4 linked regions of the Homo sapiens genome follow. The gene in region 1 interacts genetically with each later gene. Each region holds a gene or a part of one and is shown on either strand. Other genes may lie near its edges.

Region 1 (3,500 bases):
AGAGTTTCCCAGCTGGTGAGCTGCAGCACACTGATATGCCAAATTATGTTATGCTGAGATGCTGATCCTCTCACGGTTCCAGGTCACAGTGGGGCCTGAGTCTGACAGATCCCTGGATTAGGTCTTTTCCACTGTGAACAGCCCTGTCCAGGCCCTTTGCATGCTGTAGTTATTTTCATTTTCTATGAGGAAAAAAGTTTTGGAAGTGTTTGGTATATTGCATACAATTAGAGAAGATGTTATTTTATATTATTTCTTTTTAGCATGCAATGTAAGCACAGGAATTAAGCCGTTATGGTGCTTTAATTGAAATAATTATTTTTTTCTTCAGACTTTCAAGATATTCCATATTCTGATTGGTGTGAGCAGACTATCCATAATCCTTTAGAAGTGGTTCCCTCTAAGTTTTCGGGGATTTCTGGATGCAGTGATGGGGTGTCTCAAGAAGGCTCAGCTAGCAGCACCAAAAGCACAGAATTGTTACTAGGTGAGTCTTCAGATTCAAATCCAATCATTATTAGTAAAACTGTTCTGATTAGTTGGTTTTGTTTTGTTTTTCGTAAATACTGTAAATTAAAGTTGTCTCAAAACAGTAATACGTCCATTTTAGTGAAGCAATTTAACACTGTTAATTATTGCACCTATATCACCCACTGACATAGAGCCTCTTAGCTATCTGCTTTTATTAGAGTTTTGCTCCCAAAATGATTGGTAGATCATGTGTAATTGATCTCTAGGTCTTTAGGTGAAGTTTAAAAATAAATTTCATGAGTTTTAATCATTTTATTGTGACATAGATAATATTTAACTTCTCCCTGAAATCTTTTCAGGTGTTAAAACAATTCCAGATGATACACCAATGTGCCGTATACTCCTTCGCAAAGAAGTTCTAAGATTAGTCATTAATTTGAGTAGTTCAGTTTCAACTAAATGTCATGAGACTGGGCTTTTAACGTGAGTAAACTATGTGCATGAGTATTATTTGTTTATTCTGTTTTTTAAGTCGAGAAAAGATACTTGAAATACTTCAAAAGTTAGGCTAGTTAACTTACATCAGTAGTTCTAAACTGCATTGCATACCTGTGTGAGGCTAGATTTTCTTTAATACTTCAGCCAAAACAACATATGGCAACAGATTGAATGTAGAAGCAAGTATGAGAATCCAGCTATCTTCTATTAAGCCAGACTTTTGAAGAGATCTGCAAAAAATGTAAAATAATGCCACTCTTCTCACTTTTTTACTTTTGGAAAATACAGTTATTTTTATTAAAATACATGTTAACATGTAATGGATTTATTTTTAAAATAAATTAATGCATGTTAGGAAATTCTCTCAATTTTAATTTCTAATATAGTAGTTAATGGTGGCTGTAACCCACACAAAAATAAGCTTTTTTGGGTCTTCAGTAATTTTTAAGAAAGTAAGTCCTGAGACCAAAAAGTTTGAGGAAAGTGGGCTTACATGTAACAAGTCATATTTTCTTGGTTTAATTTTTTTCTTATTATTTAAAGCAGTGGTTCTTAAAAGAAATGCACCTCAGGGTCTCCTGCAGGGCTTTTTTATTTTGTATTTTGTATTTCTTTTTTGAGACGGAGTCTTGCTCTGTCACCCAGGCTGGAGTGCAGTGGTGCAATCTCGGCTCACTGCAACCTCTGCCTCCCGGGTTCAAGCAATCCTCCTGCCTCAGCCTCCCAAGTAGCTGGGATTACAGGTGTGTACCACCACACCTAGCTAATTTTTGTATTTTTAGTAGAAACAGAGTTTCGCCAGGTTAGCCAGGTTGGTCTCAAACTCCTGACCTCAGGTGATCTCCTGTCTCAGCCTCCCAAAGTGCTGGGATTACAGGCATGAGCCACCGTGCCCAGCCAGCTGTAGGGCTTTTTTTTAAGGGTGATATAGGTATTGGGGTCCCACATAGGTATCAGGGTCCCACAGCAGACCTCTGGGCTGGGAGCTCTGGGAGCGGGCCCTTAACTGGTCACTCACCCAACTCACAGCTGATTCTGAGGTGCTTTCCTAGCTAAAAGCTGCTATTTGAAGTATCCAAAGAAATAGCCCAGTCAGGGATGTTAATAACTTAACTTTAAAGATGTATTTCTATTTTAAAACTTAATTTGGAACATATTTTAATCATCCTAGGCTGATAAATATATTTTGCAATTTCTCATGCCAATAAAAAAGAATGCTTCAATTTTACAAGAAGTATTCAGGTTTTGATAATCATTTTTTTTAAAAAAAAACCCAAACTCAGAATGTCTAAGTGTGTGACAGGAATATTTAATATTTTATATTCTCAAGTCATCACCCCAAGTATGCCATCTAATCCATATCTGTAGGGAAATCTATTTTTAAAGTAAGTGATACCTTGGAGGAAAAATAGATACATCATGATTACAGTTTTCATCACACCATAATCTTTTATTTTAGAATTAAGGAGAAGTATCCTCAAACATTTGATGACATATGCCTTTACTCTGAGGTTTCCCATTTGCTGTCACACTGCACATTCAGACTTCCGTGTCGGAGGTTCATACAAGAATTATTTCAAGATGTACAGTTTCTACAAGTAAGTATGATTAGTACTTCTCAAATTTATCTTCCAAGAATAATTCTGTGTTTGAATTGAATTAAAATACAGATTATAGCTGGGTGTGGTGACTCATGCCTACAATCCCAGCACTTTGTGGGGTCAGCGCGGGAGAATTGCTTGAGCCCAGGAATTCAAGACCAGCCTGGGCAACATAGTGAGACCGTGTCAACACAGTTTTTTTTTTTTTTTAATTAGCCGAGGTTGGTGTCATCTGCCTGTATTCCCAGCTACTTGGGAGGCTGAGGTGGGAGGATCATATGAACCCAGGACTCAGAGGTTGCAATGAACAAAGATGGCAACATTGTGCTGCATCCTGGGAAGACTGAGCAAGACCCTATCTCAAAAAAAAAAAAAAATTAGATATTTATATAAATATGTTATATCATCTGTTTTTATAAAAGTAATTGATGATACACCATTTTTTCCCTAGATGCATGAAGAAGCAGAGGCTGTGTTGGCAACACCACCAAAGCAACCTATAGTTGATACATCTGCTGAATCCTGACCTCATATTTATGATGGATATAGATACATACTATATATATTCATATTTGTGGATTTCCTAAAAGCCTCAGAAAATACGACTGACTAGGCAGCAAAGACAGGAGTATCTTCTGTACACTGTTCCGCAGTTACTGGTACATGAACAGTTGGAACTGCTGACTTTCCTAACCAAAACAACTTCCTTCTCTCCTTTGTTGAGCCTTTTGAGGGGTTCATGATTCATTACCACAGTTTTAAGAGTTTCAGTTACCATTGTATGCAAGAGCCAAGCACTGAATACCTACATAGGTTTTCTATTTTCTTTCATTTTAAAAGCATAATGACAGTGGAACAATAATGGGATATGCAGAAGCACCCTTCACAAGTTATTTCTGAATGATTTTTAGGGTAAATAATACAGATGCC
Region 2 (3,500 bases), on another chromosome or scaffold:
TTTTTTTTTTTGAGACAGAGTTTTGCTCTGTTGCCCAGGCTGGAGTGCAGTGGTGCGATCTCAGCTCACTGCAACCTCTGCCTCCCGGGTTCAAGCAATTCTCCTGCCTCAGCCTCCCGAGTAGCTGGGATTACAGGCGCGTGCCACCATGCCCAGCTAATTTTTGTATTTTTAGTAGAGACAGGGTTTCACCATGTTGATCAGGCTGGTTACGAACTCCTGACCTCGTGATCCGGCCGCCTCAGCCTCCCAAAGTGCTGGGATTAAAGGCGTGAGCTACCACACCCGGCCTTTTCTCTAATCTTTATATCTGATCAGTGTACTCAGTGGCAAAGAACAGGTCATATTATGTCCTTATCATAGTAAATCTTGTTATTTACTTTGAGTTTGGGGCACTGTGTCTTCTCTTTATATTTGTTTCAAGGGGGACATACGGAATTCAAGCGGAAATGCAGCTTTGGAGCTGTGGGCTGGTAATTCCCACCCCTGCATTTGTGTCATAGGCTGTGTTCTTGTCCCCAACCACTGCTTGCTTATTTATTTATTTTTATTTTATTTTTTGAGGCAGAGTCTCACTGCGTCACCCAGGCTGGAGTGTAGTGGTGTGATCTCAGCTCACTGCAGCCTCCTCCCAGGTTCAAGCAATTCTTGTGCCTCAGCCTCCTTAGTAGCTGGGATTACAGGTGTGCACCACCACACCCAGCTAAATTTTTTGTATTTTTAGTAGAGGCGGGGTTTCACCATGCTGGCCAGGCTGGTCTCAAACTCCTGGCCTCAAGTAACCCACCCGCCTCGGCCTCCAAAAGTGCTGGAATTACAGGCGTGAGCTCCCGTGCCTGGCCACCAACCACCTGTGGATTGAGACACTGCTGGTCTGAGACAGAATCCACAGTAACAGACGGGTCATATTTCTCCAGTCCTTTCATTGCCCTTCCCAAAGTTGTACTTGATTGTCCTTGTTTCAAGAAGAGCAGGTTCTATGCCTTTGACTGAGGAGGGGTAGTGGGGTGGGGAGCCTGAAGTACTGGTATCACTGGGGACAACTAACCAGCCTTGTCCTTGTGGCCCCCAGGATAGACGTGCATAGGAAGGAGAACGCAGGTGCAGCTGAAAAAGCCATCAGTGTGCACTCCACCCCTGAGGGCTGCTCCTCCGCTTGTAAGATGATCTTGGAGATTATGCATAAAGAGGCTAAGGACACCAAAACGTAAGTCTCCAGCTTTTCTTGGATCTTCAGGGTCTGCTAGTCCAGTTGAGCCTCCCCAACTCAACTTTCAAGCTTTTATACAGACATATAAGAAATACAGTCAGCAATTGCACAAAAAGATGTAAACTGAGAAATAAAATCTTTCTTCTTACAGGACTTTGTCACCTAGGCTGGAGTACAGTGGCATGATCTCAGCTCACTGCAACCTCTGCCTCTGGATCTCAAGGGATCCTCCCGCCTCAGCCTTCTGAGTAGCTAGGACAACATGCATGCACCACCACGCCTGCCTAGTTTTTTGTGATTTTTGTAGAGATGGGGTGTCGCCATGTTACCCAGGCTGGTCTTGAACTCCTGGACTCAAGTGACCCACCCAGCTCAGCCTCCCAAAGAGCTGGGATTACAGGCGTGTGCCACCACACCCCATCCCTTCTTATTCCTGTCGTATGACCTCCTAGAAATTCTGTGCACTCACAGGTGTGTGTATATTGTGTCTGCGTGCCTGCATGTACGGATATGTGTGCCTGTGTGTATTCACTTGTGCGTGTATGCACATGTGTTTTAGCTCAGAGAGAATCACACTGAACAGGCTGTTCTATACTTTTTTCATTTTCTGTATCAGCACATATATTAGTACATATGGACAGACCGCATTATTTTTATAGCTGCATAGAATTCCACAGTATAGCTATTCATAGTTCATGTAATCAATCTCCTATTTCTTGATGGGTGTTTAAATTGTTTTAAACTTTTCCTTATCAGAAAACAGTGATGCAAGGAATCTGCTTACACATGTTCCTTTACACACTTGTGCTGTTTAAAATAGCTTTATTGGCTGGGCACGGTGGCTCATGCCTCTAATCCCAGCACTTTGGAGGCTAGGAGTTCTAGACCAGCCTGGGCAACATAGTGAAACCTCACCTCTACAGAAAATAGAAAAATCAGCTGGACGTGGCGGCCTGTGCGTATAGTCCCAGCTACTCGGAAGGCTGAGAAGGGAGGATCGCATGAGCCCAGGAGGTCAAGGCTGTGGTGAGCCTTGATAGTGCCACTGCATTCCAGCCTGGGTGATAGAGTGAGACCCTGTCTCAAAAAATAAAACAAATTGGCTTTATTGATGTTCAATTGATGTATAATAAATCATACATATTTTTAAAGTATGCAGTTTGATAAGTTTTGAGATGTTTTACTTGGAAATGCCAAGTCTGGGGTGGCATGGTGATTGAGTCTTCATGAAGCCCACAATTGAAGGAACTCTTGTCTTCCACTTCTTCCTTTGTCTTCCCAAGGGCTGACGAGGTTCCCCTGAAGATCCTGGCCCATAATAACTTTGTAGGGCGTCTCATTGGCAAGGAAGGACGGAACCTGAAGAAGGTAGAGCAAGATACCGAGACAAAAATCACCATCTCCTCGTAAGGCTCTCTTCTATTTCCCTGTTTATGAGTGGGGGATGCATGGGGGCCAGGGTCAGTATTTCATCATGGAACCTTGATATGTGCTCTTTTAAAATGGGTGCTCCTTCTGCCTCTTGAAGAAAAACAGTCGAAGTGGTAAAGAGCATTTAAAAAATCCCTGTAAGGACTGGATCTGCCCATTCCCACTGCCATATGGGGCAGGGGTGTTGTAAGGTGCTGCCTCTACAGTCCACGTCCAACCACTTCACAGCCCTCTTTCCCTGTGGCTCGTGGACAGCCTGCAGCTAGGAGCCAGGGATTCAGGGCTTTAGGCTTGTCTGTCACTGTGAGAAGTGACCTTGGCCCTTTTCTGTCTGTGGTGGGCTGCTCCTGCAAGCAGTGTGCTTCGTTTCATCAGAGACTAACCTGTGGGCAAAGTAATTGCTCTTGTCCAAAAAGGTATAGGACATGGATTATGTAGAATCAATGGGGAAACTTGGAGGCACAACCATAATCTGAGATTGGATCCATTGCTAACAGAGGAGTTTGAGTTAGGTGTTGGCATCTCCCTCCATCTTACCCCCTGCCCTGGTTACAAACTGGGAACACCAAAGACTGGGGTTGCAGAGTTATTTGCCAGAAGTTGAATAGGCTGCAGAAATGGTGGGCCTGTGACTCAGCTGGCCTCTCGTCTTTGTTACTGCCGGGGCCTGGTCCTGGCCTGCCAGTGAAAGGACACAACTCTGCTCTTTCTGCCAGGTTGCAAGACCTTACCCTTTACAACCCTGAGAGGACCATCACTGTGAAGGGGGCCATCGAGAATTGTTGCAGGGCCGAGCAGGAAATAATGAAGAAAGTTCGGGAGGCCTATGAGAATGATGTGGCTGCCATGAGCGTGAGTG
Region 3 (3,500 bases), on another chromosome or scaffold:
TTTGAGATAGAGTCTCTCTCTGTCGCCCAGGCTGGAGTGCAGTGGCACCCTCTTGGCTGCAACCTCCACCTTCCAGGTTCAAGCAGTTCTCTGCCTCAGCCTCCTGAGTAGCTAGGATTACAGGCATCCACCACCACACCAGCTAATTTTTTTGTCTTTTTAGTAGAGATGGGGGTTTCACCATCTTGGCCAGGCTGGTCTTGAACTCCTGACCTTGTGATCTGCCCGCCTCAGCCTCCCAAAGTGCTGGGATTATAGGCGTGAGCTACCGTGCCTGGCCTGTATTTTTTTTTTTTTTTTTTTTTGAGACAGAGTTTTACTCTTGTTGCCCAGGCTGTAGTGCAGTGGCACGATCTCGGCTCACCACAACCTCCATCTCCTGGGTTCAAGTGATTCTCCTGCCTCAGCCTCCCGAATAACTGGGATTACAGGCATGCACCACCATACCCTGCTAATTTTGTATCTTTAGTAGAGATGGGGTTTCTCCATGTTGGTCAGGCTGGTCTTGAACTCCCAACCTCAAGTGATCCACCCACCTCGGACTCCCAAAATGCTGAGATTACAGGCGTGAGCCACCACACCTGGCCACTGTTTGTATTTTTAGTAGAGATGGGGTTTTACCAGTGGCCAGGAAGGTCTTGAAGAACTGCTGACCTCAAATGATCCACCAGCCTTGGCCTCCCAAAATGCTGGGATTACAGGCTTCAGCCACCACGCCCGGCCCCTTCCCTGTTTTTTTATTTTATTTTACTTATTTTATTATTTATTTATTTATTTATTTTTTGAGACAGTCTCGCTCTGTTGCCCAGGCTGGAGTGCAGTGGCACAATCTCGGCTCACTGCAACCTCCGCCTCCCAGATTCAAGCAATTCTCCTGCCTCAGCCTCCAGAGTAGCTGTGATTACAGGCTCCCGCCACCATGCCCGGCATTTTTTGTATTTTTAGTAGAGACAGTGTTACACCATGTTGGCCAGGCTGGTCTCGAACTCCTGACCTCAAATGATTCACCCATCTCGGCTTCCCAAAGTGCTGACATTACAGGCATGAGCCACCACCTCTGGCCTTATTTTTAATATTTTTTGAGATGGAATTTTGCTCTTGTTACCCAGGCTGGAGTGCAATGGCACAATCTCAGCTTACTGTAACCTCCGCCTCCCAGGTTCAAGTGATTCTCCTGCCTCAGCCTCCCAAGTAGCTGGGATTACAGGCATGTGCCACCACACCCGGCTAATGTTTTGTATTTTTATTAGAGATGGGGTTTCACCATGTTGGCCAGGCTGGTCTCAAACTCCTGGCCTCAGGTGATCCACCCGCCTCAGCCTCCCAAATGCTGGGATTACAGGTGTGAGCCACCGTACCTGGCCTTATTTTTTTTCTTTTTTATTTTTGAGCTGGAGTTTGGCTCTTGTTACCCAGGCTGGAGTGCAATGGCACAATCTCAGCTCACTGCAACCTCTGCCTCCCAGGTTCAAGTGATTCTCGTGCCTCAGCCTCCTGAGTAGCTGGGATACAGGCACCCACCACCACACCTGGCTAATTTTTTGTATTTTTAGTAGAGATGGGATTTTGCCATGTTGGCCAGGCTGGTCTCGAACTCCTGACCTCAGGTGATCCACTTGCCTCGGCCTCTCAAAGTGCTAGGATTACAAACGTAAGCCACCACGCCCAGCTGTCTTCCCTGTTTTTAGATAAGGTACTGTGTTTCTGCCTTAAGCCATCTAGTGGGAACACATCTCCCAGGTTCACTGACTGTTCACTTCCTGTGGGTATCACCTTGTGCAGCCTTACCTGGTCACATTGTTCAGAGCTAAATGGAAGGGTTGTGGTCCACACCCCTCTAGATCCTGTGACCAGGACCGAATATTTCCTGTTGACTTGTAGTCTCCTTGAAATAATTTATTCGTCATATATGTTGAGAAAGCCTCTTGTTGGACTGATGATTCTTATGTATGAATGACCCTGGGACAGTGTAGTTTATGGGGGTGAAAAGTGTGATATTTGTGTGCCTGACTTTTGGTGCGTCTCATGTCTTCTGATATCCATCCTTTTCCTTTGCTTGAGTTTCCTCTGCTTCTTAGATGCTCTGTAATGTCATGGTAATAAGATAATACTAATCTGATGCTGTTCTAGGTTCAGTGTTTGGCTTTTAACCTTACCTTTTCTTTTTCTTTTTTTTTTTTTTTCTTTTTGGAGACAGAGTCTTACTCTGTCACCCAGGCTGGAGTGCAGTGGCACGATCTTGGCTCATTGTAACCTCTGTCTCCCGGGTTCAAGCAGTTCTCCTGTCTCAGCCTCCCGAATAGCTGGGATTACAGGCACATGCCACCACGCCCGGCTAATTTTTATATTTTTAGTAGAGACAGGGTTTCACCATGTTGGCCAGGCTGGTCTCGAACTCCTGACTTCGTGATCCACCTGCCTTGGCCTCCCAAAGTGCTGGGATTACAGGCGTGAGCCACCACGTCCAGCCTTACCTTACTTTCTCAAGAAGAGCAGCTAGTACTCTACCGATTCTCCAGAGGGGCTTTTTGGAAATAGTTAACAGTAGATCTTTGCTTAGGCTAGCCGATGATTTAGGGTATGCCAAACTCTATGCTTTCATAAAGAGATATGGAAAAAAGAAGGCATCAAGGAGGTACTGGTAAGATTTGGGAAATAATGAAGTATGATGATTTTAACTGTGGGGAAAAAATATTGTGATGAGATTAGGCCCCAGGTCTTTGGAAGAACCTTAATTCTAAGCTGAGACTTTGGCTGGACAGAGTCCACCTCTGCTTTGTCAAGTGCTCGAGTTTGGCATTCTCTCATGAGAAAGCTTTGTTAGAGGAAAACATATCTGATTCTGTCATGGTTGGTGAGCAAGTTTAGGCTAATCATGTTCCTGTAGGCAGGTTCTATAATGTCTAATCTCTACTGAGGGCAGAGCAAAAGAAAAGCATTCTTTGAACAGAGGTCATCCACATTTCAAAAGTGATGTGCCAAGTAACTAATTGCTTTCTCCCTGAACTTCATATGTGAAGAATGGCTAAGGGTAGTGTAAGTAGCTTTGGTGGTGGTTCTAAGGAATAGGAAGGATGGAGTACAGCTTTTGTGAGGACATAGGTGGCAATGCTGATGGGAGGACAGGCCAGCTGTCCTTACTGAACTGTTGGGCAGAAACAAGGTCTCCGATCTATAGGAACACGTTCCTGAATCGTGCTGTTTCATGTTTTCACACTTAGAAGTGGATGAAAGGATATAGTTAGTGTAAGCAGAATGAATGAAGAAGAAGGTGGCAGAATAATCTCCCCAAGAGATGCCTTTCTTTGCAGCCTAGTTCCGTATATTACTTGGTCATCTTCTGAGTCTCCTTTTTCATATATGCTCCAAGTTTCTGAGTTCTGGAGTAAGATCTTTTCCTTAAAAGGGTTGGCTTGTTGTCTAGGGTAAGAATATCAGGCAGTCTTGGATTGACTGAGAGTATGGTGATCAAAGGAAGGCCCTACATTCTTGTGCCTCTG
Region 4 (3,500 bases), on another chromosome or scaffold:
AAGATCTTGCCACTGAACTCCCGCTGGGGTGACAGAGCGAGACCGCCATCTCAAAACCAAAAAAACAAAACAAATGGAATCAGCACAATAGCTGTAGAAAGATGCTATTAGAAAGGATGGGGGGAAATGGAAAATAAGTGGCAGATAAAGTACCCATACTAAAAAGATGTCTTTAGCTTGGTTGAAAAATAATTGTCAGTCCTACCACTGTGAGTTCAAAGAACTTAAGAAAATACAGAACTTCAAGCAGAGATATAGAGGATTGGGTAAAATAAGGCATGGCAAAGAGAAAATATAACATCAGCTGGCAGAGCACACAGGAAAGTAGTGGAAGAGAAAACTAAAATTATCACAGGATTAAAAGCCACATTGGAAACAGAATAAAGGCTGGGCACAGTGGTTCACTCCTGTAATCCCAGCTACTTGGGACACTGAGGCAGGAGACTTACTTGAACCTGGGAAGAGGAGGTTGCAGTGAGCCGAGATCATGTCACTGTACTCCAGCCTGGGTGATGAAGTGAGACTGTCAAAAAAAAAAAGAAAGAAAGAAACAGAATAAAGATGAACACACAGTGCTGAAAACAGTAAAGGTTAGGGAGGACAGATTGAAAAATGAAACTGAAGAAAACAATGAGAACATAATAGATGCAGAAAGTAAAAGAGATCTGACGTAAGTATAATTGGTGTCCCTCAAGAAGAGGACCAAAGAAATGAAACAAACTCAAATATATGGTTAAAGAAGAACTTAGAAGTAAAGATTTGAAGTGATAAGTTCAAATTGGCATGATTTGAACTTGCCAAAGATTTGAAGTGATAAGTTCAAATTGGCATGAAGTGATAAGAAAAATTGGCACTGAACAGTTGGCACTGAAACATTTCCTAGGAAAATTTCTTTTTTAAAAAATTTATCTTATTTTTCGTGTGTTTTGTTTTGTTTTGAGACAGTGTCTCACTCTGTTGCCCAGGCTGGGTGCAGAGGCATGATCCCAGCTCACTGCACTCTTGACCTCCTAGGCTTAATCGATTGTCCCACCTCTGCCTCCCGAGTAGCTGAGACTACAGGTGCACACCACCACGCCCGCTAATTTTTGTATTTCTTGTAGAGGCAGGGTTTTGCCATGTTGCCCAGGCTGGTCTCAAACTGTGGGCTCAAGTGATCCACTAACCTCAGTCTCCCAAAGTGCTGGGACTACAGGCCTGGCACAGAGCCTGGCATCCCTAGGAACATTTCTATGTTTTAAGGATGAAGAAAGAATTATTTGGACACCCAGACAAAATGATCAAGTCCTCTTTAAGAGGGGAAAAGAAATTAGGCTAGCTACATTTGATGACAGAAGGCCATGGAGCAATGTCTAGGAATGTACAAATACTGTAGATTGTGCTGCTATAAATACTTGGGGATATACTTAGGCATATGTAAGGTTTATGTGGAAATAATAATGCTGGGGAACACAAAACAATACTCGAAAAATGGGAAGGTATTCTCTTTTCTTGTATAGTAAAGCTTGGTATCCTAAAGATGTCAGTGTCCCTAAACTTAATGTAATCCCTGTTTAAAATACCACAGTTGTTTTTTCTGGAGACAGGGTCTCGCTCTGTCGCCCAGGCTAGAGTGCAGTAGTGTGAGTATAACTCACTGTAACCTCAAACTCCTGGGCTTAATCAGTAGGTGTCTCACTATGTTGCTCAGACTGGTCTTGAGCTCCTGACCTCAAACAGTCCTCCTGCCTGCCCAACCCAAAGTGCTGGGGTTACAGGCATAGGCCACCATACCTGGCCAAAAATACTCCAGATTTTTAATAATGGTTTTTTAGAACCAGGCAAACTGATTGTTTCTACAGATAAATTTTACAAACATGCACACATTGTCAAAAAACTTCTGAAAAGGTGGACTAATGATGGATATTAAAACATAATGCAAAGATATAATAAATAAGATCGTTTGATACTCTAAGAACTGATGTATAAACAGAGTCTAGAAATGAACTCAGAATACAAAAAGAAATGTAGTCTGTGCTAAAGGTGATAGGAAATGAAGAAAAAATATTTTTAAGGCCAGGCACAGTGGCTCACGCCTGTAATTCCAGCACTTTGGGAGGCGGGGGCAGGCAGATCACGAGGTCAGGAGTTCGAGACCAGCCTGGCCAACATAGTGAAAGCCCGTCTCTACTAAAAATACGAAAAATTAGCCAGGCATGGTGGTGGGCACCTGTAATCCTCGCTACTTGGGAGGCTGAGGCAGGAGAATCACTTGAACCCAGGAGGTGGAGGTTGCAGTGAGCCAAGATTGCATCATTGCACTCCAGCCCGGGTGACAGTGTGAGACCCATATATATATATATATGTATATATATATACATACATATATATACGTATATATATGTATGTATATATATATGTGTATATATATGTATATATATATGTATATATATGTATATATATACGTATATATATATGTGTGTGTATATATATATATATATATTTTTAATAATTGGTATTGAAACCAGAAAAAAAAATTGGATCTCTACCTTAAGCTTTGTACCAGCCGGGTGCAGTGGCTCACACCTGTAATCCCAGCACTTTGGGAGGCTGAGGCGGGTGGATCGCCTAAGGTCAGGAGTTTGAGACCAGTCTGGTCAGCATGGTGAAACCCTGTCTCTACTAAAAATGCAAAAAGTAGCCGGGCATGGTGGCAGGTGCCTGTAATCCCAGCTACTCGGGAAGCTGAGGCAGGAGAATCGCTTGAACCCAGGAGGCAGAGATTGCAGTGAGCCGAGATGGCACCATTGCACTCCAGCCTGGGCAACAGAGTGGGACTCCGTCTCAAAGAAAAAAAAACCTTGTACCAGAATTCCAGATAAATGGAAGAATGTAAACATATAACTGTAAAACACGGGAGAATCTTGGTGTGAGAAAGCCATGAAAGTAGAAGTAAACTATATAAAAATAAAATCTCTGTAACAAAACCAAAGTCAAAAGATAAGTGACAAACTGAAAAAATACATGTAATGTCCTAGACAAAGAACAAATCCCTTAATAACTGCATATAAAGATCTGCAAATCACCAGGAGACCAGTCACCCAGTAGAAAAAGAGAAATAGATAGGAAGAGTTTCCAGAAAGGATATGTAAATGATTCTTGAACGTATGAAGAACTGAACCTCATAAGAAAAAAAAAAAATGGAGTTTCAGCTAGATTAGGAAAAATAAAAAACCGTGGTAATCTACTGTGTGTGTGTGTATACACGTATGTGTAGCTTTCCCATGCAGTTGCTATCAAAATTTAAATTGGCATTATTTTCCACCTGGTAGTTCCGCTAGTGGTAATTCATCCTACAGCTATACTCATGTGGTTGAAATGACTAAAGTGCAAGGATATTCATTTTAGCATTATTTGTAAAAGAAAAATATGAAAATATTATTATTAGGGAAATTGTTGAATAAATTATGCTACCTCCATGCAGCTGTTAAAAGAATGAGCTAGCTTTTCATATACTGATA

Evidence for each region. A genetic interaction does not mean that the proteins touch.
Region 2: changes in RICTOR (region 1) and IGF2BP1 together harm fitness less than expected from each alone (positive genetic interaction), as found in Homo sapiens cells (one large-scale study listed by BioGRID).
Region 3: changes in RICTOR (region 1) and SEC24C together harm fitness less than expected from each alone (positive genetic interaction), as found in Homo sapiens cells (one large-scale study listed by BioGRID).
Region 4: changes in RICTOR (region 1) and DCAF7 together harm fitness less than expected from each alone (positive genetic interaction), as found in Homo sapiens cells (one large-scale study listed by BioGRID).

Annotation. Positions count from the first base shown.
Region 1 is NC_000005.10:38,941,900-38,945,399, reverse strand, and holds part of RICTOR (rapamycin-insensitive companion of mTOR), read left to right. Parts: exon of another isoform or gene 1-331; coding exon 332-487; exon of another isoform or gene 488-830; coding exon 831-954; exon of another isoform or gene 955-1,166; coding exon of another isoform or gene 1,167-1,199; intron 1,200-2,428; coding exon 2,429-2,567; intron 2,568-3,021; coding exon 3,022-3,096; 3' UTR 3,097-3,500. UniProt on the Homo sapiens protein: Component of the mechanistic target of rapamycin complex 2 (mTORC2), which transduces signals from growth factors to pathways involved in proliferation, cytoskeletal organization, lipogenesis and anabolic output.
Region 2 is NC_000017.11:49,038,885-49,042,384, forward strand, and holds part of IGF2BP1 (insulin-like growth factor 2 mRNA-binding protein 1), read left to right. Parts: intron 1-1,072; coding exon 1,073-1,207; intron 1,208-2,493; coding exon 2,494-2,616; intron 2,617-3,357; coding exon 3,358-3,493; intron 3,494-3,500. UniProt on the Homo sapiens protein: RNA-binding factor that recruits target transcripts to cytoplasmic protein-RNA complexes (mRNPs). This transcript 'caging' into mRNPs allows mRNA transport and transient storage.
Region 3 is NC_000010.11:73,747,372-73,750,871, forward strand, and holds part of SEC24C (protein transport protein Sec24C), read left to right. Parts: intron 1-3,500. UniProt on the Homo sapiens protein: Component of the coat protein complex II (COPII) which promotes the formation of transport vesicles from the endoplasmic reticulum (ER).
Region 4 is NC_000017.11:63,556,977-63,560,476, forward strand, and holds part of DCAF7 (DDB1- and CUL4-associated factor 7), read left to right. Parts: intron 1-3,500. UniProt on the Homo sapiens protein: Involved in craniofacial development. Acts upstream of the EDN1 pathway and is required for formation of the upper jaw equivalent, the palatoquadrate. The activity required for EDN1 pathway function differs between the first and second arches.